2 separate regions of the Homo sapiens genome follow, and region 2 is linked to region 1. The links come from fine-mapping of genetic effects on gene expression. Tissue or cell type: whole blood. Region 1 holds a variant in brackets; the other region holds the start of a gene. All regions are shown on one strand. Distances are from middle to middle. Region 1 overlaps OLFML2B (olfactomedin like 2B). Region 2 holds the start of OLFML2B (olfactomedin like 2B).

Region 1 (2,907 bases):
CTCAGCGTGGGGCTGGCAGGGGTTGTTCCCCACCCAGCAGGAGCATCTTTCCCCAGCGAGTCTGTTCTGACTGTGGTGGGAGGCACTGGGACTGTGTGCATAGCTTCCATCAATGCCTCCCTGGGAGACACTGCCGGAGGAGCTGGGGCTGCTGGTTGCTGGGTGGCTGTGTGGGCCACAGTGGTGGCTGGTACCTGAGGAGAAGGCTGCAGGACTGACTCCCTTGTGGGATCTGGAGACACCGAGGTTGTTTGGAGTGTTGGTCCCACTGAGGCATGGTTGGCGATGCTGGGATCTGAGGTCGAGGGCTGTGGCAGTGCTGAGGACCAGGGTGCGGTCCGAGCGTTCAGGTCGCTTGTCACAGCAGTGCTGTGTCCCTGACGGGTGGCTGCAGGCCTCCGGGTGACACTGGTCATCAGGCCGTTGTGTCTCAGGAGCTGATCTTCAATCAGCAAATCCACTCCATTGTCACCGCTGAAAAACTCATCTTCTGTGAAACAAACACAAGGTTCACTGTGGCACGGGAAAGAAACAACCTACAGATGACAAGAGCACATGGCAATGAGCAGGTGAATTAGAGGGTGCCTTTCCTTAACACGACGGCTTGAGTTACAGAGGGGGCCTGGCTGGGATTTTGGAAGAAGGTGTACAGGAGCGCAGGTGGAAGGACATTGAATTTCCAGGGGGTTTCTCTGAATAGACTGCAGCCATGCTCCCCCCAGGACTCAGGGGTCACTGGCAGGACGCATAGTCATGGGTCCTGAACCCCGATGGCTGGGAGTAAGTGAGTCATCCAATCCATCCTTCCAGCACATGTTTATGGAGTATGGATAACAACAGCAAGCAAAACAAGGATCCTTGACCTCACAGAGCTTCTATATAGTGGTGGAGACGCTTGATAATAGACAGGATTGTGCACCTGAAGGTGCTATGGGGAACAAAATGTAGGGTAAAGAGGGTCAAACAAGCTAGAAGGGAAGGGAAACTTGCAGAGAAGAATAAAGTGGTGAGGATGAGACTCATTGAGCTGGGGAGATGAGCAGCTGCCTGGAGGAGGTGAAGGAGTCAGCTGAGCAGCCATCGGGCACAAAGATTCCATGGGTGAATAACCACAGAGAAAAGGCCCTGAGGCAGGACATGCGTGCAGCGGCCCAGGAGCAGCGAGGTGGCCAGCATGACTGAAGCAGAGGCAAGGTCACAGTGAGGACAGGCGCTGGGCATGCATGACTTAGAGGCTGTGTATGGAGTTCAGTTTTTATTCTGAAAGAAATGGGGGAGGCTGCAGGATTTTGAGCAGAGATGGAATATGGAGAGGCAAACATTTCTTAGAGAGGACACAAAGAGCTCTAACCACAAAAGAAATAATTGGTAAAGTAGACTTCATGTGCTCATCAAAAACACCATTAAGGAACTAAAAATGCATGCCATAGGTAGGGAGAAAATACTTGCAATACATATGATGGCAAAGAACTTGTATCCAGAATATGTAAAAAACTACCACAAATCAATGACACAAAAAAAATGACCAAAAAAAACACATGGGCAAAATGATGACGCCAGCTACTGGGTGGAGAATAAACATGGTGGAGGCAAAGGCAGAAGCAAGGAGACAGACAGGAAGCTGCTGCATCAGCCCTGATGGGGAAGGACTCGCTCAGACATACTGGGGAGA[G/A]GGGAAGAGTCGGGGCCTGCTGGGAGTGCTGGGCAAGGAAAAGAAAGAAGACAAGAGGAGGAGGAGGAGGCGAGGAGGAGCACAGGAAGAGGAAGAAGCCTAAGGAAACAAGGTAAACGTGATGTGAAAAGGGATCGTCTCTCTTCCATGAAAAATGAAGAAGGACAGAGATCAAAGGGGAGGTGCTGGAGACTCAGACAGGAAGCTCAGGGCCCCCGGAGGGAGGAGCAAGTATTGGAGAAGCCCACCTTGTGGCTCTAAGCAAGTCAGTCTCCCCAAACCTCAGTTTTCTCATCTGCAAATGGGGAGGACTGTACTGGAGGGCACTGAAGTCCCTTCCAGCCCAGCCACACTCTGCCATATGGTCTTCTGCAAGCTCAGAGAAGTTAAGTGACTTGCCCAAGGCCACTCAGCGAGCTGTGAGGAAATGCAGTGAGAGCTCTGGATAACAGGGCCACAGCAGTAATTGGAATGCTGTGTATGGAGGGGTGTATGGCTCCCAGGAATCCAGCCCACTATGGTCCAAATGGTGACTTCCTCCCTACCCTGCCTCTGGGGCGGCCCTGTTGACCCCAACTCACGCTGCTCTTCAATGTCATTCTCTTCTTCAGAGACCTTGGCTTTATAGTAGGTGATGCCCCGGATGACAGTGGGCTGGGAGGCCGGCCGGCCTCTCAGGTGGACCTGCCTCTGCAGGGGCCGCTGTGACTTCACCACCTCAGGCAGAGCCAGGGGTCGCGTCTGCAGAAGTTCGATGGAGTTGATCTGCTGGGACACGGTTTCTTCCTGCAGAAACCGCTCTTCATACTGCTCCTCAGAGGGGACACAAGGGAAGGTCAGGTCACTGGTCAGAGAGGCAGTGGGCAGGTGGGGGCAAGGCTGGAGCCAAGGCTGTGCTAATAACAGCAGCACTTCCGAAGAGCCAGGCACTGTTCTAAGTGCTTTATACATTTACATATGTTAACTAATTTAATCTTCTCATCAGTTCTATGAGGTAGGACATATTTTTATCATGATCATTTACAGTTCAGGAAACTGAGGCACAGAGAGGTTACATAAATTTCCCAAGGTCCCACAACAGGTAAGTGGTAAGGCAGATTGAAGCCAGGATGTCTGGTTCCAGAATCAGTGTCGCTATGCTTGACGTATACTGCCCAGAGAATGCAGTCCTCCTCTTGGATCTGGCCTAGGGATGCTGGGTGACTTAGATCTGGTGTAAGTTGTTTTGGGTGAGA
Region 2 (2,907 bases), 25 kb after region 1:
TCATATTGGCCAGGCTGCTCTTGAACTCCTGACCTCGTGATCTGCCCGCCTCGGCCTCCCAAAGTGCTGGGATTACAGGCGTGAGCCACCGCGCCCGGCCTACCCATGTATCTCTTATGGTCTTTATCTATAAATGGGTATTAGGGTGTTTTGAAGATTGAGTCAGAAAAAACAAGTTTAAGTACTTGGTAAACGGACACTTTACGAAGCCCATCACTATCATGGGTTACTCGGGCCCCCACTGACAGTCTGCCCTAGCTGCCTGCATCTGCATTCCCACTCTCCCCTCCCAGTACACTCCGTCATGTTCTCAGTCTCTCTGTTTGGGGGTCACCTCACATTCATCACACATGCTTCTGTTCTGACTTCACCCCATGCTCCCGCCTGGTGTCCCACCCTCTGCCATAAAGTATCTCCCGATGGGATATGCCATCTGCCTCCTGGTCAACATATCCGGCTGTTTTCACATTCCAATTCTGACAGACAGCCACATAGACAAGAGATACTTTTTACAACCCTGAAACCAAAAACAACTTTGTTTTCTTTCTTCTCAAGAAGTCGAGCGGCATCTTCCCTTCCTTCACCTCTCCTTTCTCCTGATTTGATGACCTTTAAGCACCCTATGATTTTGCGAGGAGAACCTATATCCTTCCATTAAGAAAATATTCCGATACATGAAAAATCAAAAGCCCTTTCCATTGGTAATGGAAGGAAAAACAGCTGCCCTCAAACACTTCAGCAAGGACCAGCTTCTGGCTCTCACCACCATCCAGGGCAAGAAGGGCGGTCGTGGCACTCTGCATCCTACCTGAGATAAAACGTTCTCCTGGTTGTCCGCCTCGTTTTGCAGAGTCTCGTCCTCCGCAGGCGCCACTGTCTGCGCATCTGGGGGCTCGCTTGTCCCTGTGAGGACAATGCTGGACACCCAGGCCGGAACCACAATCAGAGCGAAGTAGAGAACTAGCAGCCGAGGCTTGGCCATGAGGGGCGCGATAAGAGTGTCCTCAGCCCCTTCAGAGAATGGCTGGGGCGGGGGGTCTCGGCAAGGACTTCTGCGAGAGGGTGTCCTCGCTAGAGCCCGAAAGTGGCTGCTGAGAGCACCTTCTAAAGCTGGGTGCGGCTGAGCGGGACGGGAGGGTGCGCCCCAGAGACTCTGGGCATCTCCTTCCCGACGCGAGCAGCCCTCGACTGTGCAGCCCCAGTGGAGAGCCGGACGCAAGGAAGAGGGGATGACGGAGAAGGTGGAGGCGGGCACGGGCTAGCTGAGCGAGTCGCCCGCAGGAGGGCTCAGGTGGCTGGAAGGCGTTCGGACAGACGCCCGCGGTGCGCGCCGGGACGGGCGGCGGGGAGCCTCGGGACGCACGGGGACCGGACACGGGGAGGGAAGAGGCGGTGGCGGCGCGGGCTGCTGGGCGAGGGCTGCTGGGCTAGGGAGCCGCGGAGAGCTCGCGCGGAAGGAGGGCGGAGCCTCTATTGTGCCGGGGCGGCGGAGATGCAGCCAGTGACCGCGCGGAGGAGGAGGACCTGGAAGCGCACAGGGCTCGGGCGGAGGGGTACCCGGCGGACCCCGTCCCCGCTGGGACTCAGCTGCCGCGCGCCGGCTGAGGGTGACGTTGGAAGGGCTTTACTTTCTTCTCATCTGATCGCAAGTGAGTGAAGAGAAGTTACTCCGAGCGGCGTCCCTGAAGTTTTGGGGTTCGACCATTCTTGGCGAGAAGAGCGACTTTCCATCGCAGGCACCCAGCGCTCGCTCCAAGGCTGAGCTAGTTAGGGATCTGCGGCATCGTCCTTTAGCACACCTGGGGCAGGGGAGAAGGCGCGTTTGTTCCCAGGCGTTTCTTTTCCCTGACTTAACTCTGGGCGAGTTCTCGGGCAGCTTTGAACTTAGCGCCGTTGGTAGCTGCTTGCCTGCCACGGCTTTAGAACCTAGTAATACCTCCACCCAGAGGAAAATCATTGAATTCCTTCCTAGAGTGTGTCCTGAGTTGTGTAAACGTTGAAAGTTAGGGGAATGACTGTACATCTCCGACACTCTCCGCGAGTCCCCATGGGGAAAGCTACTGCCTGATAAATGATTACCAAAGGGAACAGCTCTTCCTGTCTTCCTGGTTTGGGACAAATCTCCGGGTCTCTGTTACCAGATTATCTCTAAGAGGGAGTCCACTTTCAATAGTGTGCAATTATGTTACTATGTCCCTCAATTACTGAGGACAACCTTTTATAAACCTACAGTGAAGATTACCAATATGTGAATTTAAGGAAGGGCACTGTGCCATCCTGGACAACTGTCACTCGGAATATTGAACAGAGCCAGGCCCCTTCAAAGGATATTATGCACCCTTGGGAAATTCAAACACCTTGCTTCTTATGCTGAGGAATAAGGGTTGTAATAAACTAAGGAAACTAGCGCATATAAGTAATAGTTGACATAAGTATAATAATAACCCTTATTAGTATATTTTAATCTTCAAAAAATTCAGTTTATGGACAAAAATTCAATGCTCTGGGTGTCTAGGTTTGTGGGGACATCATGCACACACCCTCCTCTGTGTAAGCTATCAAATCTTTTCTGAAACTATATGGGGGTAAACATTGATAAAATGTGGTGTATTTGATTGTTTGTTTGAGACAGAGTCTTGCTCTGCCACCCAGGCTGGAGTGCAGTGGCGGGATGATCTTGGCTCACTGCAACCTCCGCCTCCTGGGTTCAAGTGATTCTCGTGCCTCGACCTTCAGAGTACCTGGGATTACAGGCGCACGCCACCATGCCCGTTTAATTTTTTGTATTTTTACTAGAGTTGGGGTTTCGCCGTGTTGCCAGGCTGGTCTCGACCTCCTGGCCTCAAGCCATCCATCCGCCTTGCCCTCCCAAAGCACTGGGATTACAGGGGTGAGCCACTGTGCCCC

What was found. PIP is the estimated chance that this variant, and not a neighbour inherited with it, causes the effect.
Region 2: OLFML2B starts here. The variant in region 1 is fine-mapped to the expression of OLFML2B in whole blood (TOPMed, PIP above 0.99). The same link has a PIP of 0.9 or more in blood mononuclear cells.

What each region holds. Positions count from the first base shown.
Region 1 is chr1:161,997,860-162,000,766 of GRCh38, forward strand. OLFML2B (olfactomedin like 2B) reads right to left here. Exons shown (of 8, transcript NM_015441.3): 5 at 2,254-2,479; 6 at 1-490. Among named protein-coding and RNA genes, the nearest start is that of OLFML2B, 25 kb to the right of the region's middle. The variant G/A (reference allele first, on the strand shown) is at 1,673.
Region 2 is chr1:162,022,449-162,025,355 of GRCh38, forward strand. OLFML2B (olfactomedin like 2B) reads right to left here and starts at 1,421. Exons shown (of 8, transcript NM_015441.3): 1 at 809-1,421. The coding sequence starts at 982. RefSeq lists silencers at 1,533-1,682, 1,751-2,045.